Regions from separate parts of the Homo sapiens genome. Here all the other regions are linked to region 1. Evidence: fine-mapped expression QTL. A gene starts in region 1. Each other region holds a variant in brackets. All regions are shown on one strand. Distances are from middle to middle.

Region 1 (11,661 bases):
TAGATTGTACTGTATGTTCCCTATAACATTACTTAACAAAATAAATCATACCTTGGAAACACTGTGCTTTCTGTAAAATGTGGTGGTCCATTCACCATGTACAGTCCTTCTGATCCTCGGACTAAAGAAGTAAAATAAAAAGAACCACAATTACTTTGTTAATAAAGACTCAGTTAACACAAATGTGTTTTTTAAAAAAGCAGCTTTAGTCAAAATATTAATGAAATCATTAAATATTTCATTGAACTATAGAATATTAGCAACAAAAGGGCATATTTTCTTACTCTGTTACATAAAATCATATAATTGCTGAGAAATACGTAACTTTTTAAATAAAACTCGAAACTTTGTCACCACTGAAAGAAAGGCAGCTGTCTTGTGGTAAAGAGGACATGAATTCAGAGCCTGACCTAAGTTTATAACTGCCTGTGGAACCTTGGATACGTTACCACCTCTGAATCTGTGACCTAATCTGTAAAATGGAAATATCAGAACACAGGATAGCTGTATGCTTTATATAAAGTAATAAAAAAAGTATATGTTTAAAGTTTTTAGAAATATAAGGCAATATTAATATATTCACAATTTATCAAACTAAGAGAACAAGTGGAATGAGACATATTCATTTATTAAGGCCCCAATGACAGTAATAGCCTAAAAAATTAAGTGGAAACAAAGTTCAAGATTAAATAATCATCTACAGAACTAGACTATACTTCTTATTTCTATGTTTAAATTTATTTATTTTTTTGAGACAGGGTCTTGCTGTCACCCAGGCTGGAGTACAGTGGCATGATCAAGGCTCACTGCAACTTCAAACTCCTGGACTTAAGTGATGCTCCTGGCTCAGTTTCCCAAGTAGCTGGGACTACAGGCATGTGCCACCCTGCTTGGCTATTTTTTTTTTTTGTAGAGACAGAGTCTCACTGTTGCCCAGGCTGATCTCTAACTCCTGGGCTAAGGCAATCCTCCCTCCTCAGCCTCACAAAGTGCTGAGATTACAGGTGTGAGCCACCGCACCTAGCCTAGACTATACTTTTTTAAATGGTTGAATTAAATGCTTCTAAAGCTGAACCAAATAAATAGATTCATTTAGTCAACAAATGCTTAGTGGGAAAAAAACGAACAAACTACCTCCTAGGCCCTGTGTTGAACATTGGCGAAATAATAGGAAAGAAAATCAGCCTTGTCTCTGACCTCATTGAACTTTGCAAACAGTAATCAAATAATTGGCCAAATATACGGAATCATATACCTGTGTTTAGTCCTTCAAAGGAAAGGTATATGGTACCACTGAGGGTATAAAAGAGAGTTTTAACCTAAAAATGGAAGGTTAGGGAAAGCATCCTTAAGTGTTTTGTATACTGAGATGTAAAGGATCAATGGCAGTTAACAAGCAAGGAGAACAGTTAACAAGTGCAAAAACCCCATGGAAAGAAAAACGACAGAGCGTCAAGGGGATGGAAAGAAGGCCTGTGTGGCTAGAGGATGATGAAGCTGGAAAACAAAATAGGGCTCAGGCTAGGCGTGGTGGCTCACACCTGTAATCCCAGTACTTTGGGAGGCCGAGGCAGGCAGATGGCTTGAGCCCAGGAATTCAAGACCAGCCTGGGCAACATAGGGAGATGCTGTCTCTACAAAAATTAGCTGGGCACGGTGGCACATGCCTGTAGTCCCAGCTATTCGCACGGCTGAGGCAGGAGGATCACCTGGACTTGGGAAGTCAAGGCCACAGTGAACCATGATCATGTCACCCACCACCAAGCCATGTTAAGTTTTATATTTCTTGTAGAGACGAGGTTTCACTACATTGCCTAGGCTGGTCTTAAACTCCTCAGCTCAAGCAATCCAATCTGCTTCCCTCAGCCTTCCAAAGTGCTGGGATTACAGCTGTAAGCCACCTGGCCCAAACTGACATTTTGTACTTCTAAGATGCCTTGCTAGATTTAATTAGTTTTTCTATTAAATAAATTTAATAAAAGCATATACAGTTTAATTTACTCCTGATAAGCTGTGATACAAAGTTTATTAGAAAAAAACACAAAATCAGGTCCATAACAGAACATAAACTGTTTTAAACTAATAAAAGCAAAAATAAATAGGGACTAAAAAACTTCTCAATACTGAAACAATTTTTTTCTACATGTAACTTTCTAACAAGGAATCCTTTTTAGTTACAAGTATCTGTGAAACTAAATACAATGCGTAGTTAGCTTAATATAGTGTATTCTGAGTTTGTGTGATTCCCTGTTTTTAGTGATTTCCCTCTTCAATCAAATGGGATTGGCAATATGTTCTAGCAGAAAGAAAAATCTAGAATGCAAGCAGTTCTTTTAAGACAACAAATAAACGCCAGTTTCACACAGTAGCTGTGTGAAATACATTAAACATCTACATAATCTTTTCCAAGCTTACTAGCCTTTTTAGACATTCATATACTATTTATTGCTCTAGGCCTGAGTTAGAGAGAGAAAAACACAGGGCTTCAATAAACAAGGATCCCATGGCAGGGGTGTAGTCATCTTTAAAATACGATACTTTTCCCAACTCTTACATTCACTGAACTATGTATTAGTTTAGGAAAATCACTCAATTTTGAATAAATTATCTCTGTGACTTCAACTGGTCAAGCAGATTAGACAATGTGAATTTCACGTAATGGACATTGCTGTTTTATGTGCCTAGCAACCAGCTCCTCTTCTTTAGGAGGCGCTCATTTTCTTTTGAGGAGTATCGAGGAGTGGGAAGATAATTTAGTCCTGACTACATGATTAAAAGTTGACTGATACAAAGGTGAGCCAAGCAAAGTCAAAGGCAGCTAGCCTTGAGATTTTTGCTGAGACTACTGGCAAAAATGTGTTCTTTCCTTTGGAGCTGGGCATTTGGTTGAATGTCAGTTTAAAGATGAATTTAATCTGGAGGAAAGCAAGAACCTACAGATGAAGAAAAACAGATTTCTGGCCAGGCATGGTGGCTCACACCTGTAATCCCAGCACTTTGGGAGGCAGAGGCGTGTGGCTCACCCGAGGACAGGCGTTCAAGACCAACCTGACCAACTTGGTGAAACCCCAACTCTACTAAAAATACAAAATTAGCTGGGCGTGGTGGTGCACGCCTGTAATCCCAGCTACTCAGGAGGCTGAGGCAGAAGAATTGCTTGCACTTGGGAGGTGGAGGTTGCAGCGAGCCAAGATCGCGCCATTGCACTCCAGCCTGGGCAACAAGAGCGAAACTATCTCAAAAAAAAAAAAAAAGAAAGAAAGAAAGAAAGAAAAACAGATTTCTGAAGCCATGTGAGTATCTGGATCTAGCAGTACTGAGGCTTTTAGGTTATACGAGTTTAAAAAAAAAAATCCCTTTTTCACCTGCTTTGGCTTGTCACTCCCAATTAAGAGTTGGGGTTAACAAAATTTACTGGCTAATCTGCAAATTATTCACAGCTCTAAAATCCCACGAGTCTAAATTTAACAAAAGATTTTGGAAGTAAAATAATCTATTGTTGAATGAAATATGTACACTGAGAATGTTTAAAAGATTAAACAGTTTGTTCTAGTGAAAGAAAAATGGACCACAGAGTTGAACAATCTGAATAAGTATAATCCTAATCCTGCCAATTTGCAGTGTGAATCGGACCACTTAATCTCTCTGGGCCTCTAAGAATATGAGAATATGAAGAGTAGACTGAACAGACAACATTTAAGCTCTTACAAAGTCCCTGATTTTAAGCACTGTAAGACAATTGTCATCCTTGGTTAATTTACTATAAAGTGGCTATCCTTCATTAATTTAAAAGGATAGTCTAAACAGACAAATCTAATCTAGATCTCTTGTATGCACAGTTCAAAATAGGGTTTGCGCTCTTATGAGGCTCTAATGCCCCCACTGATCTGACAGGAGGGGAAGCTCAAGTGGTAATGCTTGCCCAGTACCAGTCCGGCCCAGGGGGTTGGGGACCCCTGATTTAGAGTATCTATTGTCTACCAGGCACTGCACTAGTACTGAGAAGACAGATATGAATAAGACCCTGTCGCTGACATTGAAGGACTCACAGTCTAGCAGGGGAGAAAGGCAAGTGAATGTCTAATTATCCTACTTAGTAAGTGAAATAAAATTTCAAATATATTTCAGGTACAAAAATAGCCCAGGAAGTGACTGACTCTATCTGGGTAGAGTGACGAAAGGCTTCACAGAGCAATGATATCTAAAATGAATTTTAATTTCAACAGATGAAAAAGAGTTTGCCAAATCAACAAGAGGCATAGGATAGTACTAGACTGAAGAAACAGGTTGTTCAAAGGGACTCAGAAGCAGTTCAGTATTGATGGAGCACCAAATAAGATGGGATGGCAAGGAAATAAATGAGTCTCAAGAGCAATTCAAAGATTATAAATGGTTACATAACTATGCTACATAGGATGGAATCTACCCTGTAAGCAGAGAGGAACTACCTACTGTAGGCATTTTTAAAGGAGGGGTTATTTATCAGATTTTAGAATGTAATTTTTTCATTAGAGTTCAAATAAGCATTTAGTATTAAAAATTGTGAATAACAAGCTACCTTTACAAACCTAAAAAAAAATTTATTATGTAACTTTGCCTTTTAAACAGTCTTTGCCTGGTATATTATCTAGAAGATTATACTCGGCGTTTGATAAATGATGACTAAACTGCAGAAGACAGACTGAGCATCAGTGGGCATGGCGCTTAATAACAAAGATTTTAAAATGTAAAAATAGAAATGTAGACTGGCAAAAAGTGCAAAAATGTTTTAAGGTTCCTTTCGCGGGGGGGAAGGGAGGGAATAGCCTCCCTCCTTAAATGCAGACAACCTTTCTCTTAATGACTTTTTCCTTCTATATAGTTATCAGAACTTAACCAAAACCTTCTTTTCCTTCCCGACTCTCTTTTCCTTACGTAATACTCATATGCAGACTCTTAGCCACACCCTAGTAAAGCAACTTCCCCAGCATTTTCCAATCTAAGTTTATTATCTCCTCCAACACTACAGTCTTTAGCTTCAAAATTTCAAGAGTCCTCTAATGTTCTATTTCTAATATGCTCATAACCATTTCAAAATCAAATGTTGCTAGAATATCTCTATCATGCTCACTGCTACACCCTCTCCCAACCACACCTTCATCATTTGAAACCTGCATTACAGCTCCACTCTCCCTATTCAGTCCTACAAACCTCATTAAGGCAGGAAGGCCAGAATCTGGAATTACTTAAGTCCAGGTGTATTTAAAGTGCGTGATCATTCTAGAGGACTAACTCATGTTTGTCTTTGTTCTTATTGTAGACCTAAATGACTTCACAAGGGCCCGTGTAACACCAGTATTGCAGACCCATGTGTCACAAATTCAACTAGCACATTGTTTTTCTCCCCCTTCTTCTATTTCTGTAGAAGATGAATCCGCAGGCAAGAATGATGGATGGGTGAAAGGGAGGGGGAATACGAAAGCCCAGAGGCGGAGACTTCACTTCCGATTGCCACGCTATATCAAGAAAGCCAACAGTCTGGCCTTTCCGCAAGCCACAAGAAAAGGCAGATCAGACTCCCCGGCTCCTCGGGTAGTTCTCAAAGGCAAAGACAAAAATAAGAAACTAGTCTGAAGAAAGAGAGTCCCTCGCTTCTTCAGAACTCACCTGTCAAGAGCGGCGTGGACGGCGCCATGTTGTCCCGGAAAGAGAAACCGCTCGGGTGAGAGTTCACCAGGGCCGAACCCGGCCCCTACACGTCTCCTCATGCGTGGAGACAGCGAATTGGTGTTTCCGGAGCCATCAGCCTCGGGGCCAATTCACTTCCGGTTACGGAGTGACGCGGAAAAGGCGCCCAAACGCGCACGCGCAAATCTAGGGCGACGCTTGACAGAGCTTGGGAGGGTGCGCCTGCTTTCGCCCTCCTTCTCCAGCGGGAGGGGCGCGCACTTCCGCGGGGCGGAGTCCGTCTAGTGCTGACGTTGGCAGCCGAACCCAAAGTAGATCGAGGCGGCGGGCTGCACATTCCCGTTGTTGCGTTGCGTTTCCTTCCTCTTTCACTCCGCGCTCACGGCGGCGGCCAAAGCGGCGGCGACGGCGGCGCGAGAACGACCCGGCGGCCAGTTCTCTTCCTCCTGCGCACCTGCCCCGCTCGGTCAGTCAGTCGGCGGCCGGCGCCCGGCTTGTGCTCAGACCTCGCGCTTGCGGCGCCCAGGCCCAGCGGCCGTAGCTAGCGTCTGGCCTGAGAACCTCGGCGCTCCGGCGGCGCGGGCACCACGAGCCGAGCCTCGCAGCGGCTCCAGAGGAGGCAGGCGAGTGAGCGAGTCCGAGGGGTGGCCGGGGCAGGTGGTGGCGCCGCGAAGATGGTCGCCAAGCAAAGGATCCGTATGGCCAACGAGAAGCACAGCAAGAACATCACCCAGCGCGGCAACGTCGCCAAGACCTCGGTAAGGAAAGAGCGGGCGCCCCTCTGCGTTCCGCAGCCGGAGCTGAGTCCGGGTCCCTGGGGCCGCGTCGCGTTTTCTCCCGGATCCGGCCGACCGTGGGCTGGTGCCGTGGAGGGGTAGGGGCCCGAGTCTGCGAACCGCCAGACTGTGGGGGCTCGGGAACGGAAGGGGAGACCTGTGAGGTGAGGGGGCCGGCGACCGGCGTGCAGGCGTGGGAGCCTGGGGTCCGAGTGGTTTCTCTGCATCTGAAATGGTGGATTTTCGCTTTTGCAGAGAAATGCCCCCGAAGAGAAGGCGTCTGTAGGACCCTGGTTATTGGCTCTCTTCATTTTTGTTGTCTGTGGTTCTGGTAAGTGGCTTGGGGGCTCCCATCAGGTAGAGTCTTGGGTTGAAAGGATTTGGGATGACGTGGTGACCGGTCAGTAGTGAGTCCTACCTGCGTAGTTCTCAACCCACCTGCCGAGGACTCCACATAATTCTGTTTCGTCTGAACCAAATTACTTGTTCCACATATGCACAGAGGGTGGTGCTCCAGAAACTTCTCCCAGCTTAATTTGTACTCACAGGAGATCAAAAAGGAGGTCAGGTCTTGGTAATGATCCAGTTGGAATAAATGTTAAGACCGGACAAAACCTAACGAAATGAGAATTTAGAATGTTTTGTAACTCCATTATCAGTCTTTGCAAAGAAAATTATAAATATGTACTATAGATGTTAGAACTTGATTTAACATATACCAGAATCTAATGTCTTAATGTCAAAATTGAGTATATTTTATAAAATAAAGCTTGTGCAAAGAATTGATTCACTATAGAGGAAATTACCTGATTGGCATTTTAATGTGTGAGTCAAATGTTTTTAGGTTAATAAAAGAAACGTTTGATACATGGTTTAAAAAAAAAGTGTCGGGGTAGCCTGCTGTCCCCTAAGAGTAACAGACACTTGCCTTTGCAAATAGATTACAAAAAAAAGGTCTTTCCTCTCTTCATTTATCATTTTAATATGCAAGCTGTTAATATTGAAGTAGATGTTTGTTTTCCACATTCTAAAATTACTGAGATTTCTGTTTAACGTTTCACTTTGCCTTTCTTCTTCACTTACCAATTGGAAGCTTTCCTGATAAATGGATGAGAGCCAAGCAGTTTATATAACCTGAAGATGATTGAATTTCAGCTTTGTGAGAATGAGGAAACATGCATGTGTTACAGGCCAGGCCTTAAAAGGATGCTTATAAACCAAAATAATTCTATGCTGGAAAAACCTGTTGGCTTTGGTGCTTTAAGTTCTTTGTAAAATGATTACTTATCTGCAAGTTCTCTTGGATACTTAGACATAAAGTTCAGCGAAGCTAAGATAAAAAAATAACTCAGGGATATTTCATTGTTTTATTTATTCAGACAGGCCTGTCTTCACTTCTTATTATACTGAAGTTATGTACCATTTGCAAATGTAAGAGTACCTTTGGATTCTTCAGCTACCTTAATAAATATTTGTTAGACACCAGACCTATTTTATTCAAAGCTTATTTTAATATTTGCTCTTTCTTTTTACAGCAATTTTCCAGATTATTCAAAGTATCAGGATGGGCATGTGAAGTGACTGACCTTAAGATGTTTCCATTCTCCTGTGAATTTTAACTTGAACTCATTCCTGATGTTTGATACCCTGGTTGAAAACAATTCAGTAAAGCATCCTGCCTCAGAATGACTTTCCTATCATGCTTCATGTGTCATTCCAAGGTTTCTTCATGAGTCATTCCAAGTTTTCTAGTCCATACCACAGTGCCTTGCAAAAAACACCACATGAATAAAGCAATAAAATTTGATTGTTAAGATACAGTAGTGGACCCTACTTATTCAGTCAATTAAGAGTAAGTTTTTTTATGTGGTTATTAAAACAGTATGAACAATTAGTCTAACTCTGCATAGACAGGGTCTAGATTTTGTTAACCCAAATGTATAACTGCAGTTAGCTTAAATTACAATTTGAAGTCTTGTGGTTTTTATATAGCTAGGCACTTTATTACTCTTTTGAACTGAAAGCACACTCCCTTATAGGTTCATGTAACTGTCCTGTAATAAGGTGCTTATAAATGGAACAACTACACAGCCTAGTTTTGCCACAACCTTTAGCATCTAAAAAGTTTTAAAAGCTTCTAAATGTCTAATATAAAGGGAGATGCTTATAGCCACAACATCTATTTTACCAATATTGTTTCCATTACACTACCTTGGATTTTGCATGAGTGAGTATAGTAACCCAAGATGCCATAAAAAAAAAACTTGATCGTTTTCTGACTTAATCAGTTACTGTGGTTTCACTAAAAGCTACCGTGGTGGAGTGAAGTCAGTCAGGGAAGGTTTGTTTATGTTACATTTATTTCACCAGAACTATTTTAATATATCAAAGGGGTTTACTATGCCAAACAAAATTCTAGGGAAAAATACTGCTAAAAATGGATGCCTCATCAGAACATGCTGTTGAGTCCAATGTGCCATAAGACATTTTAGCATGTTAAATAGCACTTTTAATAGCAAAAAAAGGCACATCAACTGCGAAGTTATCCTTAGTTTGCAAATGCTTTTTCTAGATTAATGATTTTTCAATCATTAGGGTACTAGACACATCAGCCTAAAGTGGCATCTGGAATTGAATGGATTTACTGATAATGATCAGTCTTTAGTCTTCCCTTTGTTATATGACTTTATAGGTTATGATTGATCAAATTTACGTTTTACTAATGGTAAGGGTGAGGGTCATAGGGCAGGTTTTGGGTTTTCTAGTACTGTTGAAAACTGCAAGTATTGGCTATTTGTATACTTAGCCATAACTTGGTGAAAAAAAACCTGAGCAGTGTCTATGTATTAATGCGTTGGAAAGAAAGCTGCTTGTGTTTGCTTTGTTAATTGCCTCAGGATATTTCTTTTAAAATAAGCTGTTTTAAGAGGAACAGAAGGGAAATCTGCTACCTAGTCTATACACAGCGTGAACCTCACAGGGGGCTTCTGATACCCTCAAACATGGAGAACAGTAAGGGAGCAGAGTGGTTAAGGACTTTCAGGAACTTAACTATTCTGGAATAAGGAATGAATCAACTGACCTTGGGCCAGCAGGTTTTTAACTAAATTGTTACTTGCCTTTCTCACCCAGTTAATCAGTCTCTGTACTTGTTTCCCTTTTTGAAACAAGTGTCTTGGTTAACTAATTCTGTTTTATGGTTGTGCTAAATTCATAGCAGGTGCCTTATTCTTTGCTTTTAGTCAAACCATTCCATATCAGAATTTTCCTTGGTTTACTATAGATATTTGGCTTTAAGTTGTTGTTTGTGTTTTTTAATGTACAATGTTCTGATAAATTTGACTGTTAAATTGCTATAGCTAGCAATCATTTTACATATGTAAAATTGCATTCCCTTTGTATTTCATGTGTAATTCACCAATTAAGTGCAGTTTATATTCAGGTTGGATTATGCATGTTTAGGTAAACGAAAGCTGTGTCTTACTTGATTTATTCTTTAAAAATAAAGTTCCCTGAATATTTGATGCTTTTCTTCTAAACGGAAATGATTTTACAGTTATCTGAGTGTACCTTTTATAGTTAGTAGAAAATGATTTTAAAGAATGTTTAGTATTGTACTTAAATGGTATGCAGAGGCACAGATGTAAGGTTTATAACTGGAAATAGGTGGTAAGAAAAATATATAGAAAGCACAATGATTTGAATATTTTTCCACTTAGGATTTCCTAATCTCCTTGTCATCCAATTCAAGCTCAAGATGAAGCACAATTCTTTGATCTCCCTTTGCCAGTTGAATTTTATAGATCATCTAATGTTGAGCACAGTATGAGAATAAATATTGGGGTTGTCAACATTACTCAGTTACTCTTTGTGGTTTAACTCTAACATTTCAACAAGTTGTCAATTAATTGTATCTGTTGGGTTGTATATAATGTTGCTCAAAATAATTAAGTGGACTTCCAAAAATAAGATTTCCATTGTAACAGGATGCATTGTGATGGGCTTTGACTTACATTAAAGAAATGTGGATAGTCAACTGCAGGGCCATGACTCTTCTCACTGAGGTTACTGGAGTTCTGTTGGTACAAAGGACAACCATGGAGAGCTGGATTATGTTCCTGGGCTTAGTAGGTTCACCAGCAAAACTTTATTATGCTTCATTTGTGAAACTTAGAGCATCAGATTCTCCATTTAGAAATTGTTCTTAAGTTTGATTTGCCTTTACTTGCCTTTGTAGTTTTTAAATTTATTTTTTAGATGCAAACCGTAACTTCAAGAGGTAGGAGTTGATTGGCTTCAACAGCAAACTCTATGGCACTCCCTCAGAGAAGCATTTCCTGTCTAAACTTACTTAGTACCACAGTAGCTACTTGTACTACTTTATTTTCAAATTGAATTAGGACACATGTCCTTATTTAGAAAGAGGATTAATGAGCAATAAAAGGCTAGAAATTAAGGGAAAAATTAACTGCCTAGGCTTAGGTAATTCAAAGTAAATATATATCACAGAAACAAAGAAGGGACATGGAAAATTTAATCCAACTGCTTCAATTCGCAGATTAACAAAAACATGCATTTTAGTCAGTGAACAACTTATATGCCAGGTATGGAACTGTGAATACATAGTCCTGACACTGAAATATCTCAGACCAGTAGAGAAGGAACAGACAAAATGAAAGCATAACTACAATTGTAATAAGTATGTCAAAGGACAAGTAAAGCCAGATAAATTTTTTTTGTTGTTTTTTGTTTTTTTCAATCACAGAGCTAATTGGGGGAGAGCAGAAACGAACCAAAGTTTCTTGTACTTTATGGTAATAGGAATGATTGCAAAACTTACACTTAGAACACTTCTGTTTTCACGAGCTCTTTGCTTCTGCTTTTACAGAAATTCTTTAATTTTTTTTTAATTGCCAATTCGAAGGAAAAAGGAATCTGTCCTTTTATGGGTGCATTTAAAAAAAACTAGTGACAAATTTACTAGTGGTGCTCCCTGTACAGCACAAAAATGCAAGGGCTAGTAATGTTACCACTGTGATACATTTAAGGTTACATTTTTAAAAATTATTTTGCTAGAGTTTTTAATAATTTTTCATCTGGGCCAGGCGCGGTGCCTCACACTTGTAATCCCAGCACTTTGGGAGGCCGAGGCGGGTGGATCACCTCAAATCAGGAGTTCGAGACCAGCTTGGCCAACATGGTGAAACCCAGTCTCTAC
Region 2 (11,661 bases), 45 kb before region 1:
TCTTTTCCTTTGACTCTATGAGTTACCACACATTTTGTTTGCAAACCAAGAACCCTAACTTAGAGCCCTGTATTATCTTTATCTTTCCTTCTTTGAGTCTTGCTTAGTTTTTTTTTTTTGTTTTGTTTTTTTGTTTTTTTGTTTTTTTTGGAGACAGAGTATCACTCTGTTGCCCAGGCTGGAGTACAGTGGCATGATCTCAGCTCACTGCAACTTCTGCCTCCTGGGATCAAGCAATTCTCCTGCCTCAGCCTCCCGAGTACCTGGGACCACAGGCATGTGCCACCATGACCAGCTAATTTTTGTATTTTTAGTAGAGACTGGGTTTCACCATGTTGCCCAGGGTGGTCTTGAACTCCTGATCTCAAGTGATCCACCCACCTCAGCCTCCCAAAGTGCTGAAATTATAGGCATGAGCCACTGTGCCCAGCCTTGCTTAGGTTTTCTAACTGTTGCCATTCCCACCTCCAACTCCTAAAGAGAATTATAGACAAGGCAATACTTGCAAGTTCAGATAGTAGACTGTCCATGTCTGGGAGGCCATTACACAGAGGCAAGAACCATAGCCAGCAAGTTGTTTAGGCCAGCAAGCTTAAAAAGCAAGGGCCAGACCTCTGTATGAGGAAAGGGCTAGAGTAAGAGGCCTATGATAAAATTCTGAAACAAGGACTTTTGAAGTCTAGTTATCTAAAAAACACAGGGCTCAAATGTAAGAACAAACAGAATCATAACTATCATCAGGTTGCTTTGCACAAGCATAAAAACTAATGATGTATGATATTATTTTCGACTTACTAAAAATCAAAATAAAAAAGACTAATGATGTATATACCTGGTTTTATTTTTGGAGTTTTAAGTTTTGGTTACTGTGCTGGAGGGATAGTAGGATATGCTTAAGTCACCAGCCCCTCCATAAAAGTCTCAGATCCTAAAACTCAAAGGGGCTTCCCTGGGCAGAGACATATCCCAAATTCACTGCCAGAGAGAGAAAGTGAGAGCGAGGGAACTCCTATGTAGTACCCAATGGGAAATGCTTAGGAAGCCTGTGCCTGGCCTCTCTGAACTCCCTTGATGCATATCTTTTTCCCACTGCTTTTGCTCTGTAACCTTTGCTGTAATAAGCCTTACCACGAATATTACTTGCTATTCCATCTTGTGAGTCTTTCTACCTAATCACTGAACTTGGGTCATGGGACCGCCGAAACAGAAGGCATGGGAGGAGTTCAGGGAGTACAGGATAGAGGAGGACCTGGTGAGCCTAGGGCCTTGGAAGAAGCTGATCAGGAAAACAAAATATATTGATTACAACAAAATCAAGTTGTAATAATTGTGGGACAGGAAAAAAAAACTATACTCAGTTTTTGTGATTTTGTAGGAAAATGGGCACTCCATTATACTAACTTGGGAAAATAAGTAAGTCCAGTTTTTTGGAACTACAATCTGTCAACATAAACCCAAAGCCTTAAAATGTACATGAACCTTGACCCAGCAATTCCACTTCTAAATCTAACCTAGAGAAATAATAATGTATAGCTCAAGATTTTAATTACAAAAATATTCATCACAATGTTATTTTATAAATTTATAAATCAGAAACAATTTCAGTGTCCAACACTGCATTAAATAAATCATGGTATATTAATTTAGTGGCATTTTAACAACCATTAAAAATGACTTATAAATTTTTATATGTGTATAAGTTACATGCAGAATACCAGCCTGGCCAATATGGTGAAACCCTGTCTCTACTGAAAATACAAAAAATTAGCTGGGCGTGGTGGCAGGCACCTGTAGTCCCAGCTACTCGGGAGGCTGAGGCAGGAGAATCCCTTGAACCTGGGAGGCAGAGGTTGCAGTGAGCTGAGATTGCACCACTGCACTCCAGCCTGGATGATAGAGTGAGACTCTGTTTCAGAAAAAAAGAATAATATACAAGGAACCAAAAAGTGGTTGATTCCTGAGAGGAGAACAGGGAACAGAGTGACTAGGGAACAAAGATGGGAGAGAAGTTATTCTTATTGCATAAGTAACTTTTGTATTTTAAAGTTGTGTGCTGTTGTCTTGTAATACTTATTCAAAAAGTAAATATATGTTTTAGAATTCAATGAAAAATAAAGTGCTCAACATAGAATGTTAAAATTGGATTACGAAACAGTAAAGTGTTATCACATTATTATTTATGTATTTTTTAAAGTACATAAATAGGAAGATATGGATCAAAATGTTTTGCTTGGCTATATTTCCTGTTAAACATATGTTATTTTGGTAATAAGAAAAAAAGATAGCTGAGCATGGCGGCACGCACCTGTGGTCCCAGCTACTCGGGAGGCTGAGGTGGGAGGATTGCTTGAGCCCAGGTGGTTGAGGCCACAGTGAGCCATGACTGTACCACTGCACTCAAGCCTGGGTGACAGAGCAAGACCCCATCTTTAAAAAAAGTACCAAATAGGCCAGGAGCGGTAGCTCATGCCTGTAATCCCAGCGCTTTGGGATACCGAGGAGGGGAGGATCACTTGAGTCTAGGAGTTCAAGACCAGCTTGGGCAACATGATGAAACCCTGTCTCTACAAAAAATACAAAAAGTATTCAGTCATGGTGGTGCACACCTGTAATCCTAGCTACTGAGGAGGTTGAGGCAGGAGGATCATTTGAGTCAGGGAGTTCGAAGCTGCAGTGAGCCATGATCACACCACTGCACTCCAGCCTGGGTGACAGCGCAAGACCCTGTCTCAAAAACAACAACAACAACAACAACAAAACCCACGAATTTTAAAAAATAATAAATAAAAATTTACAAAGAAAAAATAGAGAAGTAGAAAACGAAAATCTCCTCAGTTCTTAGCAGCTACCAATCCAGAGCCAGCAGTCTTGGTGTGATTGGCCACTACCTCTTCCTCTTCTAGGGAACAGGGGGATGTCCAGAAACAAACTAAAGAACTTCTTATAGGTCAGAGGGAGGTGGAGTTTCAGTAGCTTCTATGCAGGGTTGGCTTTATGGGTATGTGACCTATGCAGTCACACAGGACCCTGTAGTTGGTTTAATGCTCTGTTGTCACAGCTTTGAAATTCTTAATAATTTTGAATAAAGAACTTCACATTTTCATTTTGCATTGGGCGCTGCAAATTATGAAGCCGGTCCTACTTCTATGTCCAAGGCTGATCGCTTCTCTACCACTGTTAGTATTACCAAACTGTCCATTTGAAATTCCATGAAAAAGTTTTTCACTGCCAGTGTTTAAAATCCAAATGTCTGCTTGAACTTTGTGATCTAAATGTATTATTTCAATCAATAAACTATAAGCTAGGCATGGTGGCTCACACCTGTAATCCCAGCACTTTGGGAGCCAGAGAAGGGAGGATCACTTGAGCCAAGGAGTTTAAGAGCAGCCTGGGCAACATGATGAGACCCTGTGTCTACAGACAACAACAACAACAACACAAAGTTATTTTTTGAGACAGTCTTGCCCGTTGCCCAGGGCGGAGTGCAGTGGCACGATCTCAGCTCACTGCAACCTCTGCTTCCTAGGTTGAAGTGATTTTCCTGCCTCAGCCTCCCAAATAGCTGGGATTACAGATCCGCACCACCATGCCTAGCTATTTTTTTTGTGTTTTGTAGGAGAGAGAGAGTTTCGTCATGTTGGCCAAGCTGGTCTCCAACTGCTGGCCTCAAGTGATCCACCTCCCCTGGCCTCACAAAATGCTGGGATTACAGGCATGAACCACCACACCTGGTGTACAATTTTTTTTTTTTGTTAATTTAGCCAGGCATGGTGGCATGTACTTGTAGTCCAGCTACTCAGGACGCTGAGGTGGGAGAATCGCTTGAACTCAGGAGGTTGAGGCTGTAGTGAGCCATGATCATGTCACTGTACTCTAGCCTAGATGACAAACTAAGACCCTGTTTCAAAAAAAAAAGTATGAGTGTATTGTCTCAGATATGACTAGGGGAGTGAGAGAAGCGCCACAAGCTAGGGACTTCAGTTTCCCTAAATGGGGACTAGATGTCCCTGCTGGGAAGAGGGAAGAAGATGCAAAAACAAAACAGAGTAGGCACAAAGATTCTCTCCAGTGAAATCACAATTCTAGGATTTGCTCTTTAGCTTCAATGAACATAGTCAAACAAAACTGTGCCTGGAAGTAATTTTGCCCAATAGTGTAAAGGCAAAAACCTCTGCTTTGCCAGGCCTGAGACTCTAAAAAAATACAGCTGACTTTACTTTAAAAAGGAATTTAAGTCCTAGAAGGTTTGTGGATGTATTCCCAATCGTATAGTGCCTGATTTGCAACTACTTCTGGGGTAAATCCCTGGGTTATCCATTCCTGGTTACCAGTTCCTCTCAGTTCCAAGAGTACTCATTCCCAGCTCTCCCATTAAATCCTCAGACAAGAAACTGAGGTGGTGTCCTGGGTGATGGCTCCCACTTAATTGCAGTATCTCTCCCTCACTGCCCCCTTTCCTTCTCTCTTTCTTTGTCCCTCTTATGTATATCTCTTTCTCCATAATGCCTTTCTCTCTTTCTCTCCTCATTTCCAATTTTTGCTTAATGATCTTAGAAAAATATGTTTTCTTTCCCTTCCGTCATTTTGTTTGTAAATGCTGGATTACCTCAATGATGGTTAAGCTCGAGAATGGTGAAATTTATACCAGGGAAAAGAGAAGATAAGCTTATATGTTTGTCCTAAAGAATCAGTATCTAAAGCACAAAAAGCATCCTTGGGAATCTCCTACAAATTATTTTCCCATACTTTTTCCTTCATTTTAATGTTTCTTCTAAAATAAAAAAGTATTCAAACTTTCAACAAGAATTTTCATTCTATTTTCTTATTTCTTATTGTGGCATTAATTTTTAAATATTAAATAATTTTTTAAAGACAATTTTTTGGGAGTTGTAGGTTCACAGCAAAACTGAGCAGAAAGTACACATTTCACACATACCCCCTGCATGCATAGCCTCCCTTACTATCAATATCCCCCACCAGAATGTGTCATTTGTTATAAAGGATGAACCGGCCTTGACACATCATAATCGAAGTCCATAGGTTACATTAGGGTTCACTCTTGGTGTTGTATAGTCTGTGGATTTGGAAACATGTTTAATGACATGTATCCATCATTACAGCATCATACAGAATATTTTCCCTGTCCTAAATATTTACCCTCCCCACTAATACCTGGCAGCTACTGATCTTTTCATTGTCTCCATAGTTTTGTCTTTTTGAGAATATTATGTAGTTGAAATCATACAGTATGAAGCCTTTTCAGATTGGCTTCTTTCAGTTAGTAATATGTATTTAAGTTTCTTCTGTCTTTTCATGGCTTGTTAGCGCATTTCTTTTTAGTCCTAAATATATTCCATTGTCTGGATGTATCTCAGTTTATTCACTCATTGAAGGACATCTTGGTTGCTTCCAAGTTTTGGCAATTATAAATACGTTTGCTATCGATGTATGCAGGTTTTTGTGTAGACTTAAGTTTTCCACTCCGTTAGGTAAATACCAAGGAGTGACATGCTGTATTGTATGTTAAAAGTATAGTAATAAACTATACTTAGTTTAGTAAGAAACTGCCAAACTGTCTTCCAAAGTGGCTGTACCATTTTGCATTCCCACCAGCAATAAATTAGAGTTCCTGCTGCTCCCCATCCTCATTAGCATTTGATGTTGTCAGTGTTTTTGGTTTTGGTCATTCTAATAGGTGTAAAGAGGTATTTGACTATCGTTTTAATTTGCATTTCTCTGATGATGTATGATGTGGAGCATCTTTTCATGTGGTTATTTTCCATCTGTATATCATCTTTGATGAGATGTCTGTTAAGGTCTTTGGCCCATTTTTAATCAAACTTTTATATATTAAACAACTTTTATATATTTTTAAATGAATTTTCAACTTTAATATACAAAGTTGTTTGCTTACTGTGGAGTTTTAAGATTTCTTTGTATATTTTGGATAATACCTCTTTATCAGATACATCTTTTGCAAATATTTTCTGTGGCTTCTCATTCTCTTGAAAATTTAAGTGATTTTCAACTTTTTTTTTTTTTTAATGAGCCTATACCCAGTTTTTGCATTTAAGGTTTTCACCAATGCTCACCTCAACACCAATGACAATTTATAATATTCTTTCAATGGGAAAACATAGTCCTCTCTGCAAATGGTTGACTTCTAAACAAACTGTTGGAATATGATTCATTTGCACCAATAAGAGACCACTATTACAGAACAAGTTTAGCAGGAGGGTGGGAATAAGTCTGATGGCAAAAGTCTAAAGAGGGTTAAGTTTGACAATGAGAAAAGACAGACTAGACAGCAGAGTAAGACCCTGTCTCCAAATAAATAAATAAATAGCAGTAATCCAGGCTACTAAAATGGCAAGTTTTAAGTGAGTGAACATATTTTCCAGTTATGTTCTAAAATTTTGAATTCCTCATTAATTTCCCCATACTCCAGATCCTTAGAACCCTCTAGTGTCCGTATGAGGAATTGGTTTAGGTGAACCAAGTAAAATGCTTTTAATTTTTACATTCATGTTTTTAATATATATATATATATATATATATATATATACACACACACATATACATACACATATATATACACATATATATACATATACATATATATACACACATATACGTGTGTATATATATATGCTGGATGTAGTGACTCATGCCTGTACTCCTAGCACTTCAGGAGGCTGAGATCGGTGGATTGCTTGAGCCCAGGAGTTTGACACCAGCTTGGGCAACATGGCGAAATCCTGTCTCTACAAAAAATACAAAAATTAGCTGGGCATGGTGGTGCATGCCTGTAGTCCCAGCTACTGGGGAGGCTGAGGTGGGGGATCACTTGAGCAGTGAGCCGTGATCATGTCACTGCACTCCAGCCTAGGCAACAAGGCAAGACCCAGTCTCAAAATGTA[T/C]ACATATATTATCAAATACAAAAAACCTTTAGAAGTGTGCTTGTCTGACTTCCAATTTAAGACAACAGACTAAGCACATGCATCTGCCTCCCCCTTCTTAGGATCTGAGTGACATGACAGGAAAGTGGTACAAGCAATAATTTTGTGGCAACACTGAAAAGAAAGAAGGACCAGTGGTCCAGAAACTGCAATACCTCCAGGAAAGAAGGACCAGTGGTTCAGAAACTGTATTAAAAACTCTAGAAAACAGAAAGTAGATGGATTCATACTAATTGGTTTACCTATAATTTCCACAATATACCCGCGGTGAAATGAAGTTTGGAGATGTGAAGTACTCGAGAGATTCCAAGAACAAAACAGAGCATTACAGAGGGAGGGAGTGGCCTATGAAGCAGCAGCTCAAGAACAGCCGTGTGTCACTTAACAGGGATAGGTTCTGAGAAATGTGTCACTAGGCGATTTCCTCACTGTGTGAACATACAGTGTACTTACATAAACTTAGATGGTATAGCCTATTGCTCCTAAGCAATACAATATGTTACTGTATTGATACTGTAAGCAGTGGTAAATATTTGTCTATCTAAACATATGTAAACGTAGAAAAGGTACAGTAAAAATATGGCATAAAAGATAAAAAATGGTACACCCATATAGGGTACTTAACTTGAATGGAGTTTGTGGGACTGGAAGTTGCTCTGGGCAAGTCAGTGAGTGAGTGGTCAGTGAACATGAAGGCCAGGGGCATTAGTGTACACTACTATGGACTTTATAAACACTGTACACTTAGGCTATGCTAAAAATATTTTTCTTGTTTTAATAATCAATTAACCTTAGCTTACTGTAACTTTTTAAATTTATAAACTTTTAATTTTATATAACTTTTTGACTCACAATATCACTTAGCTTAAAACATACGTTGGCCAGAACAAGCCTATAATCCCAACATTTTGGGGGGCTGAGGTGGGATGATCCCTTGAGCCCAGGAGTTCAAGACCAGCCTGAGCAACATAGTGAGACCTCGTCTCTACAAAAAGTAAAAAAATTAGCTGAGTGCGGTGGTGCATGCCTGTAGTCCCAGGTACTTGGGAGCCTGAGTTGGGAGGATCCCTTGAGCTTGGGAGGCAGAGGTTGCAGTGAGCCAAGATTGTGCCACTGCCCTCCAGTCTGGGTGACAGAATGAGACCCTGTTTCAAAACAAAAACCAAAAAACACATTCACACACATTATACAGCTGTACGAAAATATTTTTTCTTTATATCCTTGCTCTAAAAGCTTTCCTCTAATTTTTTTTTTTTTAACTTTTAAAGACACAAACCCATACATTAGCCCCAGCCATGTAGGGGCTATTGATCAGGATCATCAATATCACTGTCTTCACTTCCACATCTTGTCTCACTGGAAGGTGTTCAGGGGCAATAACACACATGGAGCTGTCATATCCTACAGTAACAGTGCCTTCTGGAACTCCTCCTGAAGGGCATGCCTGAGGCTGTTTTACAGTTAACTTTCTAAAGTAGGGGTACACTCTAAAATAACAAGTATAGTATAGTAAATACATAAACCAGGAACAGTCATTTATAATTATCCAGTATTATGTACTGTACATAATTGTAAGTGCTAGACTTTTATAGGACTGGCAGCACAGGTTTGTTTACAAACAGCATCACTACAAACAAGTGAGTAATATGTTGTGCTAGGGCATTACAAGGCTATCATGCCACTGGGAGATAGGAATTTTTCGGCTCCATTATAAGCTTATGGGACCACTATCATATTTGCAGTTTGTCAGTGACAAAAACGTCTTTATGTGGCACATAACTGTAGCTGATTAGATCACTGGCTATCACACTTCAGGGCAAAGACTTTCTTCCCCCAGGTGCAGAGAACAAATGGTTGAAGCATTTCCTCTGGTTGCAGTCCTGCAAACTGCTTTCCAAAGACAGTACTGAGCCTCAGATGATGTAGACCTCCTCAAAGTCCTGAAGAGTAGAAAAATGCTCCTCCCCTACAGAATAATTTTTTTTGGAAATTGTGAGGCCCCTGTCATCCTACAACGACACTAACAGGACACTTGTCAGTCACAAGACCAACTGTGAGCAGGCAATCAGCCCTGCATTCCGGGCAAGGCTTTGGTGTAAGCAGCTCTTCACAACTGCCGCCGTGTCCACGCCTGCCACTTAACCTCATCGACTCTACAGGGCTAAGCTGTCCCTGAAGAGGTGTAATGTTATGGCTGGGCCTATGACTTACCACTGATCTGACGCAGGGGTTACAGACAGTCAGCAGGTCTATGACTATTAATGGATTGTATCTTTCCATAGAGAGCTGAAAAGCCAAGGATAAAATGCTCACCTTATAATTTACTTTTGGAAAACTCAACATCTTACCTTTTCACCTTTTTGGATTGCAACATAAACATCACAGAATTTCTGATATTAAATTTATTTTGGAATGTATGTGTATTATTTTTTACTTGGCAAGGGGTATAAATTCAGAAAATGTTCAATTTAGTTTTTTAAAAACTGGTTTAACAGTTTGTCTGAAGCAGATTAGTGGCCCATGATCTTCATTAATCTTTTGAGCAATAAATGTTTAAATTGTTCAATCTGTGTCAAAACCAATCTGGCCCATTGCTTTATTTCTTTTTTTAAACAAAGTTTAAGGCCAGGAGCAGTGGCTCATGCCTGTAATCCCAAAGCTTGGGAGGCCGAGGCAGGCGGATCACTTGAGGCCAGAAGTTGGAGACCAGCCTGGCCAACATGGTGAAATCCCGTCTCTACTACTAAAAATACAAAAATTAGCCAGGCGTGGTGGTGCATGCCCGTAATCTCAGCTACTCGGAGGCTGAGGCGCGAGAATTGCTTGAGCCCAGGAGGCAGAGGTTGCAGTGAGCTGAGATCGAGCCACTGCACTCCAGCCTGGGTAACAGAGCAAGACTCTGTCCCAAATTTAGATGTTAAAATGCCAATTGCGGAGTCACATCTGATTCACTTAACTTGATTATGCTTCCACTAAATAAAAACAACAGTCTCAGAGTAATAACAGTACCAAATGTGAAAATAAATTGAGTAAAAAAACCCCAAACATAGTGAAGGAGAAAATCAGCAAGTAAAATAAAGATGATGATGATAATAGTAACAACAAAAAGTATTTACATTTTGTTGTTGTTTTGGAGGCAGGGTCTTTCTCTGTCACCCAGGCTGGAGTGTAGTGGCATGATCATGGCTCTCTGCAGCCTCAATCTTCTGGGCTCAAGTGATCCTCCAGCCTCAGTCTTATAAAGTGCTGGGATTACAGGCATGAGCCTAAATTAGTGCCTGGCCTAAATTTTCTAATGTGACATGACTCAAGAATTCCACTTCTAGGAGTTTATATAGTGGAGAATACAAGAAGCAACATAATTATGTGGTTATTTCCATGTTATTTTGTATTCTTCTACAGAATACAAAGGAATTAGCAATATTTTTCTGTAAAATGCCAGAGAGTATATGTTTTAGGCATTGCAAAAACATGACCTGTTGGAAATACTCAACTCTGCAGTTGCAGCATGAAAGCAGCCATGGAAAATAAGTTAACGAGTGAGCATGGATGTGTTCAAAGAAAACTTTACTTATGGACAATAGATTTCACAGTTTTATACCATTTTCACATGTCATCAAATAATCTTTTGATTTTCCAACCATTTAAAAATGTAGGCTGGCTGCAGTGGCTCATGACTGTAATCCCAGCATCTTGGGAGGACGAGGTGGGCAGATTGTTTGAGCTGAGGAGTTTGAGACCAGTCTGGGCAACGTGGCAAAACGCCACTGTTTAAATGAGGGGAAGTCCAAATGTTAGATTCTGGACTTGGCTCTTCCTCTACTTAGCTGCCAACCATGATAAACACGTTAAACCTTAAAAAAAAAAAGCAAACCATTTTTCTATTTAGAGCATGTTAAATCTTACTTTTTCCCATAAAGTCTTCCTTGATTCATTAGTTGTCCTTTACTTTTTTTTTTTTTTTTTTTTTTTCTTGAGACGGAGTCTCGCTCTGTTGCCCAGGCTGGAGTGCAGTGGCACGATCTCGGCTCACTGCAAGCTCCGCCTCCCGGGTTCAGGCCATTCTCCTGCCTCAGCCTCCCGAGTAGCTGGGACTACAGGCACCCGCCACCACGCCCGGCTAATTTTTTGTATTTTTAGTAGAGACGGGGTTTCACTGTGTTAGCCAGGATGGTCTCGATCTCCTGACCTTGTGATCCGCCCGCCTCTGCCTCCCAAAGTGCTGGGATTATAGGCGTGAGCCACCACACCCGGCCTGTCCTTTTAAACAAACTGAAATTTATACAATCTATATTGGTCTGCTCAGGCTGCCGTAACAAAATACCAGACTAGGTGGTTTAAACAAAGAAGTTTATTTTCTCACAGTTCTGGAGGTTAGAAGTCTGAGATGAGGATATCACCAGCATGGTTAGGTTCTGGTGAGGACTCTCTGGCTTACAGCTGGCTGCTTTCTCACCATGTCTTCACATGGCCCAAAGAGACAGAACAAGCTCTCTGGTGTCTTTTCTTGTAAGGACAATAATCCCATCACGAAGTCCCCAACCTCTTCACCTCATTCAAACACACTTACCTTCCAAAAGGCCCATCTCCCAATACCACCACGTTGGAGGTTAGGGCTTCAACATACGAGTTTTAAGGTGGCACAGTCAGTCTATTAACTTCCTGTCCATATATTAGTTATGTATTAGGCATTATGTATTAC
Region 3 (9,266 bases), 62 kb before region 1:
GACTTTTTGGTTTTAGACAATATGTCTAATTAAAAGAATAAAAGCTAAAACAAAATGAACTTTGGAAGTTAGTGCAGAATATAACAAAAGTGGCTTTTTAACTATGGGCAAAATAAGAAGATGGATAAAATAGGCTTACCAGCAGTTTCAACTCTTATTTCTGTTCTGACTCACCAACAGGGGAAACATTAAGATTTATCAGATACTTATGTCCTTGAACAAACTAGCTAGCTAGCTATATTCTTATTAAACCCTCAAGACAATCCTGTGAAGTTCTATCATGCCCACTTTATAATTGAGCAAATAGACTCAGATAGGTTAACTTGTTTTAGTCATATAACTAATAGGTGGCAGATCCAGAATATGAACGAAATTATGTGATACCACCCAAATTACATGACACCAAAATCTAATTATCCTCAAAGGATATGTCTTAACATTAGAAAGAATGACCAACATTAAAAATATATATATATAGCCGGGCATGGTGGCTCACACCTGTAATCCCAGCACTTTGGGAGGCCGAGGAGGGCCAATCACTTAGGGTCAGGAGTTTGAGACCAGCCTGATAAACATGCCGAAACCCTGTCTCTACTAAAAATACAAAAATTAGCTGGGTGCGGTGGCGGGCGCCTGTAATCCCAGCTACTCAGGAGACTGAGGCAGGAGAATAGCTTGAGCCGGGAGGCGGAGGTTACGGTGAGCCAAGATTGCGCCACCGCACTCCAGCCTGGGCGACAGAGCGAGATTCTGTCTCAAAAAAAAAAAAAGCTGAAGACCCCATGTAACAGTGAGCTGGGTCTCCATTCCAGGAGACGCTCGACTCTGAGTCCCGGCCCTCGGCACTGTCCACTGTTTCGGCGCCAGCAGCAGCAGGCCCAGTTGGTGTTCTGCCATGCAGCTAACTTGGTGTGCAGAGTGAACTGCCGCCGACGGAGCGGCCAGGAGAGTGGGGATTTCTGTCAGCGCCGGTACCCCGGAGCTCGGAGACATGAACGGCTTCACGCCTGGGCAGTGGGGAGGCGGCAGCCGCAGTGGCCGCTGTGGTCGCCAGTGCCTCGTCCGGGAAATCGGGGCTGAGGGGCCGGGCGCAGGGGCGGTCTCAGCGGCTGGGCCCCTGGGGGCGGCCAGGCCGGGCTCCTGGCAACTGTGCTGCCTGCGGAGGATGGTGAGCGGTGCGGTCGGGCAGCAGGCAACGCCAGCTTCAGCAAGAGGATCCAGAAGAGCATATCCCAGAAGGTGAAGATCGAGCTGGATAAGAGCGCAGGCATCTTTACATATGTGATTATCATAAAAACTTAATTCAGAGTATTCGAAACAGAAGAAAGAGAAAAGGGAGTGATGATGATGGAGGTGATTCACCTGTTCAAGATTTCGATACCCCAGAGGTTGATTTATACCAATTACAAGTAAATACACTTAGGAGATACAAAAGACACTTAAAGCCACCAACCAGACCAGGACTTAATAAAGCACAACTTGTTGAGATAGTTGGTTGCCACTTTAGGTCTATTCCAGTGAGTGAAAAAGACACCTTAACATATTTCATCTAATCAGTGAAGAATGACAAGAACAAATCAGATCTCAAGGTTGATAGTGGTGTTCACTAGATGTGGAATTGAGACTAAAAACTTGGATGTTAACACTGTTTACCGCTTTTTCACATGTAGAAATGTTCTTTGTGTATTTTTTCTGCAAAAGATTTTCTGATTTTATTTTCTTTGTTTCTGACTCTAATAATTAGTTGGAAACTCATGTAAAATGAGCTTTCCTAAATTAAAAACTATTTTAAATAAAGGTTATTACTATTAAAAAAGAAAACAAAAACAAATACACACACACACACACACACACACACACACACGACTCATGATGCAATAGTACTGTGGCAAGACCATTAAATACAGAGTCAGGAAATCAGCTCTCTCACTGACCAACAAGACAATGGTCAAGTCCATTAACCTGCTTTTGTCACAGTATCCACACCTGTACAATGAGTAGGATGACACCTGCAATACACAGGTAGTTCTCAGAGTACTCAAGAGATAAGGCATGTAAAAGTGACACATGTATGTAGGTAGGTTATCACCATTATTAGAAAAATGTTAACAGCATTTGGATACTTTAAATGTTAGTAAAACATTTTTTAGTCTCTTTTCCTGAAAGAGTTCACAATCTAATTTCAGAGAGACAAATACACAGCAAACCCTGGGGAACAATTATAAGGTAATGCAGAAGCAAGCCCAGAAAGCAGTGCACAAATTACAAACACAAATTAAAGAGCAAGGAGAGAAAGAACAATAATTTCACTGGTGTATCTTTCTATCACACTTCTCTTAGGTCATCAATTATGTATATTCTATCCTTTCCTTCTCTCTACCAGCAAAATTGAAAATAATGAAACATGAACCCAGTCTAATAGACTGATTGAAATGTTAAGACTGTTTTTGGTTACTAAGATGCAAACTTGAAGAAAAACCAAACACAGTGCCATCCTGAATTTGAAGTGCTGAGATAACCAAATCAAATCAACCATAAGTAGTTCTGCTTAATGACACAACTACTTATCAAATGAACACCTTTGTCAAAATGAAAAGAAAAGGGTACCTTTATACCTAATGAAAAGACTGTCTTGCTTGTGGTACAAATGCTAGGTTTC[G/A]TAATGCCAAACTATAACAAAATTAGTTAAGCTACCTTCAAAAGTAAGCACTGTAATGTGACAATAGAGACCAATCATAAGTAAAACAGTTGGGTTTCATTTTCATTCACATAACTACTAGGAATCTTTGATATCATTCACTCTGTTCCTCATTTTTTTCTACCAGCCAAAATTACCTTTTAAAACATTAAACTAATGAAATTCTCTAATGTAATGTAATTTTGGTACATAGCCCCTATCAAATTCTTACTCAAATTCTGAAATCACAAAAATTCACAAAAATAAATCATACCAAACACTGACACTTTAACCAACAACCTAATGACAAAATCTAGGAGAAAATTATATTAATTATAAGGTAGACAGAAAGGTCAAGATTAAGAAAAATTACCTAAACTCTGCTTCAGGAAAATTCCTATCTGAAAGCTCACAGATCTAAGGCTCATCCCAAAGGGAGAACCAAATAGCTGGTCAACTTCAGTGAAGTAAGATACTATCCATGCTCCCATTCCCAACTTTCTATATCCTGACAGAGGATGTGTTAAAAAGAAAGAAAACACCAAGGCTGGGCAAGGGGGCTCCTGCCTGTAATCTCGACACTTTGGAAGGCTGAGGCAGGACTGCTTGAGCCCAGGAGTTCAAGACCAGCTTTGCCAACATGGTGAAACCTCCTCTCTACAAAAAAATACAAAAATTGGCCAGGCATGTAGTGCGCGCCTGTAATCTCAGCTACTTGGGAGGCTGAGGTGGGAGAATGACTTGAGCCTCGGCAGTCGAGGCTACAATGAGCAATGACTGCACCACTGCACTCCAGCCTGGGTGACAGAGTGAGACCCAGTCTCAAAAAAAGAAAAAGAAAACATCAACAGAATAAGTAGCAAGGGTGTGTCAGTTTCAGGGCAGCAGGAAAAGGACTAGCAGTAGCACAGAGAATTCTGGAAGTTTATAGTCCCACCTGTAGAGGCACGGAGGCCAGGCCGAAAAGTTACTGATGGCGCAGTGTATTCAAAACTTAAGTTTTACCCTCAACAACTTAAACAAAGGAACATACCTCAAAATAGTAAGAGCCATCTCTGACAAACCCATAACCAATATCATACTGAATGGGCAAAAGTTGAAAGCATTCCCCCTAAGAACTGGAACAAAACAAGGATGTCTACTCTCACCACTCCTATTCAACATAATACTAGAAGTCCTAGGCAGAACAATCAGGCGAGAGAAAGAAACTGTACTAATCAAAATTTAGGGGTTATCTTGGTATTTCTAAATAATATATTCAACTCAATTGTCCAGCACTTGCCTTAATGGCAAACTGTTAGGAAATTATGTTTCAATTTTTTGTAAAAGGTTATAAAACCTTTAAGATCATTCAGTCATGTTTACCTATATCTAAAAGCTTTGAACTAAGTACTTAATTCATTATTAAGTGGAAACAACTATTATGTGCAAGGAGTTCAATTACATGCTGCAGCTATTTTTTTAATGGTAACACTCTACTACTACTAACCTGCTATCTACACCAACTTCTTACTACTCCTTTATTTCATTGATACCAATAAGCATACTTTTCCATATTTAGCATCTCTACTTTTCCTTTTTTTAAAATTAGAGACAAAGTCTCGCTATGTTGCCCAGGCTGGTCTTGAACTCCTGGCCGCAAGCAATCCTCCCACCTCAGCCTCCTGAGTAGCTGGAATTTACAGGTGTAAGCCACTAAACGTGGCTACATGTAGCATCTCTATAAATTAAAAAAACAATAACAAACAAAAAAAGCCACAGGATTTATCTTATAATCATTAGTGTGTCCGTTTAAATGGCAGTATTTTTTTCTTCTAAATGGCATATAAAATCATGGTACATCTTACAATCCATTATGTATTTTAGGTTTGATGTAATAAAGTAACTGTTAATTTAAGTTTCTTAGTTTCAGTTATCATGGCTATTTTGGAGATAAAAATTTCTTTGTGGGGGTTTTCCCCTGGCTACTATGTCCTTAGTCTTCAAAAATCAGGATTCCTTCCCTCCCACCAAAAACATTCATAATACTTGTTTATTTTAATTATCATTCCAGTGAATGGTATAGCATCACCACAGAACTCAGGAATCATCTTTGACATCTCTCACTTCATGCCACCTCTCTTTCCCCACAAACATACAATTCATCATTAAGAGCTGTTAAATTTACCACATAAAGATCTCTCAAATACATCTCTTTCTATTTCTACCACCTCCTTACTTTTCCAAGTTCCATTATCTCTTGCCTGGACAACTCCAAAAGCCGCCCTAAATGGTTTCCCATCAATTCTTTGTCTCCTGGAATGTCTTTTCCACAAGAAAACCAAACGGTCTTTGTTAAGCATGGCCTGCCAGACCCTCAAGCTCTTAACGGCACCTTCTTTTAGGTCTCTGAGGTCAGTAGGCTTAGGCTTCTCTGGTAAAACTGTGGTCTTTCCTACTATAAGTACACTGAACATGTTATTCCCATTGCCTGGAAAGTTCTCGCCAAATAAATCTTATCCTTCGAATCTCAGTTCAAAGTTCATTTCCTCATGGAAACCTTCCCTGATCCCGACTAGGCATCTCTCATACCACCACATAATCTTTCTTCACAGCACTTAACACCAATTGAATTTTATCTGTGTGGTCAGTCCATGGATTAATGTCTGCATCTGCTCTTGCCTGTGAAGTCCACGAGAGCACTGAATTGAATTCTCCGCAGGAAGCAAAGTGCCTGCACAGAGTAAGTGCTCCAATATCTGTTGAATATGCAAATATCAAGTCTACAGTAACCAACATGATCTCTGTAACTCACAATTTCTCCAATTCAGCATTTTACTACTAATCTTGATGAGTATCAACATCCAAATCAACCTTAGGTCTTTATTTTCTTGCTGTCACACTATGAAAGCCAAGGCTGAATAGTTGTAAATTTAAATAAAAATCTGTTTTGGTACAGTTGTTTCATTTACCTCTTAAAACTACATTTAGAAGTTGGCTGTCCTAAAATTACAGCAGTAGATTCTCAAACTAACAAAACTTTGAAAATCCCGCCATATTCTACTTATGTTTTGAAATCTCAATTTCATTTAATCTACTATTCTCAGCAATTCAGTTGTCAAATGTTCAAGTAAATATTAACTGTAAAGGGTTGTAGCCAATAATCTCTTTAAACTGCAACTAATTAAATGCTGTAGATCTGATTACATGTTAAATCGCATATACGGAGAAAGTATGTATGACAAACATCATGCCTAAGAGTAACTATCAATACAAATTTATAAAAATCAATAAAAGGAAAACACAAAAAGGGAATTTCAGCCGGGGGCAGTGGCTCAAACCTGTAATCCTAGCACTTTGGGACGCCAAGGTGGGTAGGTCACTTTGAGGTCAGGAGTTCAAAATCAGCCTGGCCAACATGGTGAAACCCCGTCTCTACTAAAAATACAAAAATTAGCCAGGCGTGGTGGTGCACACCTGCAGTCCCAGCTACTCAGGAGGCTGAGGCATGAGAATCTCTTGAGCCCAGGAGGCAGAGGTTGCAGTGAGCTGAGATCACACCACTGCACTCTAGCTTGGGCAACAAAGCAACACTGTCTCAAAAACAATGGAATTTTAAGCTCTGATTAGAGAACTTCCTTTTTCTATGTTAAGTGTTAAACGTCCAAATAAGCAGAATAAATTTTTTTCCAAGTATGAAGCCAATATAATCAAAAGTATCTAATTATATTGCTCAATCAACATAATAAACCACAGACTCAGATACACAAGTAATACTGTGCCAGTCTGGTAGACTTCTTGAGATGGTCACATCTTTAGCATGCTTAATTCCTGGCATACAGCAGGTATTACACACAGCCTGGGCAACAAGGCAAGACCAGGTCTCTACAAAAAATATGAAAATTAGCCAGGCGTGGTGGTGCGCGTCTGCAGTCCCAGCTACTTGGGAGGCTGTGGTGGGAGGATTATCGGAACTCAGGAAGTCAAGGCTCCGTGATCATGCCATTGCACTCCAAACTGGGTGACACAGCGGGACTCTGTCTCAGCAAAAAAAAAAAAAAAGGAAGAAAGAAAGGAAAAAAAAAAACGAGAATAGGAAACTCTGTCGTAAGCTACTCTACAAGCTTGATCTCTCAGCACTATGTTGCTATTGTGTTGACTAACAATTGCAAAAGTGGTACAATTACCAGGTGATATATTGAGGTATAGTTATTTTTGATAAAATACTCATGATCACTATAAGGGGAAAAAGTCAGTGGAAATGAAGGTAAAATAGTTCTCTTTTGATTGTTAGCAGTGGTAATTAATGAAAAGCTGCATTTTATAATACTGACTTCAAATGGAATTTTAAAATTCTCATGTTTATCCTCAAACGTATTAGCTTCCTGTCCTTTCTCAAACAAACTTGCAAATTAATGTCCACAAGATTCTAGCAAAACCAGAAACCCAATATTCACTTTACCATAAACAGATTAATCTCTGGGGGGAAAAGCAACAAACAACAAGCTAAGTTGATCTGTATTTGGTGGGTCTTATTAATAACGTTATTTCCCATCTACAGATTAAACAAAAAATGATCTCCGGTGGATAGTGTCAGAAAAATAAAAATAAAAATAATTTTTTAAATGGAAGCATTTTTGTTATATAACATGCTCAGAGTGACTGTAAAAGAAAATTATTAGACTTTTGGGACAGGTCTGTACTTAAAAACAAAGAAAAACAAAGTATCAAAAGTTTAACTGAAGTACTTACTACTTTTTTTTTAAGTTTAATTTGAAGGACTGAATGCCCTTCCCTACGTTTGTTTACACATTTTGAAAACCTTGCTATGAATAGCCTTGGTGGAAGATACACCTGGTAAATTATTGTGACAAGTGTTCCAAAAAAAGCAAACGTAAAAGGGGTATTTTGGAAAAGCAAAAATACAACCAAGAGATAAAAGTAGGATACAGAAAAATTAAATAATTTGAAAACTGCAATTTTTTAACACTTAAATCCGTAAGTATCACAACCCTTAACAATCTTTAGGTTAGTAAGATGATTACCACCTTCTAATTTAAAAATTAAGGAAAAAAGTTAATGGATAAACCATTCTCCCATTTGCAGTATTACATGAAAGATGATATATTCCAGAAACATAGTACATTGTACAGGGAGGTTTTTTTTTTTTTTTTTGAGACGGAGTTTCGCTCTTGTTGCCCAGGCTGGAGTGCAATGGCGCGTTCTCGGCTCACCGCAACCTCCGCTTCCCGGGTTCAAGCGATTCTCCTGCCTCAGCCTCCCAAGTAGTTGGGATTACAGGCATGCGCCACCACGCCAGGCTAATTTTTGTATTTTTAGTAGAGATGGGGGTTTCTCCATGTTGGTCAGGCTGGTCTCGAACTCCCGACCTCAGGTGATCCGCTAGCCTCGGCCTCCAAAGTGCTGGGATTACAGGCGTGAGCCAGCGAGCCCGGCCTTGTTTGTTTTTAATCAGGAGAAATTGCAATGTTTTAGTTTTCACTCAAAAAAATAAAGTCTCACCATCTTATTTTCTAACTCAAACATCACCTTAAGCCGATTTTTAAAAATTATTTTAAAGGTTTGCTTGGTCTTCAGTGAGTAAGTAAAAAGCTAGTTGGAGAAGTAGAAAATCAAAACTTTAATATACTAATACATGAAGTTCTTAAAAGAAGGTTTTAAATGAATGATGTCCAACACCAACATTCCAATGTATCCGGACTCTGATGATTTACTAATCTGGCTATTCTGGGATGGTCGGTTTATCCTGAGAAAATGTCATCTTTGGAGGTGTAAGATTCTCATTTCTATAATTTTACAATTTTGGTGTTTTTTCCCCCATCTTCAGAGCCTTTCAATCCCCACCCGCAACCCCACTTACCGTATAAAATGCATCATTGCCCTGCTTCTAACGATTAGGTTAAAAACAAAATCATTTAAAGAACACTGTCGAAAACTGCCGAGATCTGCTGGATACACAAGACAACTGAAAGGTAGAAAGAGATGCCAGAGCAGGCAACTCCTGGGAGGCAGGTGAGGAGGGAATGCGAGCGAACTGTCAATGTTTAGAAGAACAACGTGCTCCTTTTCTGACACTTTGGAAATGGCAAACAGAACCAGCATCCCCAGACCTTCCTTCCACCCCCTCCAGCTGTCAGACGCCCCATTCGCAAACTCAACAGTCCCCCCAGCAAGTTCAGGAGAAAAACGGCGTCTGTCACTCCCGGATCCTCTCCAATGACCCGAATTAACCTTCATCTAGCCAGGCAGCGAAGCCGCCCGGCATTACCCCGGAAAAGAGGGCAGAAAAAGTGAACTGACAAACGGTTGGCGCTCCTCCGCCGACGCGGCGCCTACTCATCCCCATCTCCGCAGGCAGCCGGGGTGGCTATGGCGTGACGCCGCCAACCAGTCCTCCGTACTAACAGGTGTCCCCCAGTCTTCGCCTTTCAGCGTTTAACCTTCTCGCGCCCTCCTTCCCCATTCCCACTGTTCTAGGAGGCAAAAAACAAGTGAGCAGTTATACCTGGAAAAGGAGGGCGGCCTGACCGCGCTAAGGGGCCGCGAGAAGGCTGGCTGTGGAAGGGCGCCGGCACAGTTCTACGAGGCC

Direction of the effects. Positions count from the first base shown, and alleles are read on the strand shown. Sizes are in standard deviations (SD) of each study's normalised expression. Not every link is listed here.
For the expression in fetal neocortex of the gene that starts at base 5,981 in region 1, G is the high allele of the variant in region 3 and A is the other (small effect, 0.28 SD a copy in Walker 2019).

What was found. PIP is the estimated chance that this variant, and not a neighbour inherited with it, causes the effect.
Region 2: its variant is the best candidate, but not a certain one, in a credible set for the expression of SERP1 in whole blood (INTERVAL, PIP 0.59).
Region 3: its variant is the best candidate, but not a certain one, in a credible set for the expression of SERP1 in fetal neocortex (Walker 2019, PIP 0.59).

Annotation. Positions count from the first base shown.
Region 1 is chr3:150,540,816-150,552,476 of GRCh38, reverse strand. SERP1 (stress associated endoplasmic reticulum protein 1) reads left to right here and starts at 5,981. Exons shown (of 3, transcript NM_014445.4): 1 at 5,981-6,425; 2 at 6,699-6,774; 3 at 7,979-10,479. The coding sequence starts at 6,342. The coding sequence ends at 8,019. It overlaps EIF2A (eukaryotic translation initiation factor 2A), which reads right to left and starts at 5,690. Exons shown (of 14, transcript NM_032025.5): 1 at 5,647-5,690; 2 at 52-121. The coding sequence starts at 5,674. RefSeq lists enhancers at 5,383-5,922, 5,195-6,394, 5,840-6,470.
Region 2 is chr3:150,585,648-150,597,308 of GRCh38, reverse strand. All of the region lies in intron 1 of LOC124900547 (a long non-coding RNA gene), which reads left to right. It overlaps EIF2A (eukaryotic translation initiation factor 2A), which reads right to left. Exons shown (of 14, transcript NM_032025.5): 14 at 11,293-11,661. Among named protein-coding and RNA genes, the nearest start is that of SELENOT, 12 kb to the left of the region's middle. The variant T/C (reference allele first, on the strand shown) is at 6,921.
Region 3 is chr3:150,603,603-150,612,868 of GRCh38, reverse strand. The region is part of intron 1 of SELENOT (selenoprotein T); the gene reads right to left. It also overlaps the pseudogene SAP30P1. Among named protein-coding and RNA genes, the nearest start is that of SELENOT, 4.9 kb to the right of the region's middle. RefSeq lists enhancers at 9,090-9,266, 8,664-9,266. The variant G/A (reference allele first, on the strand shown) is at 2,660.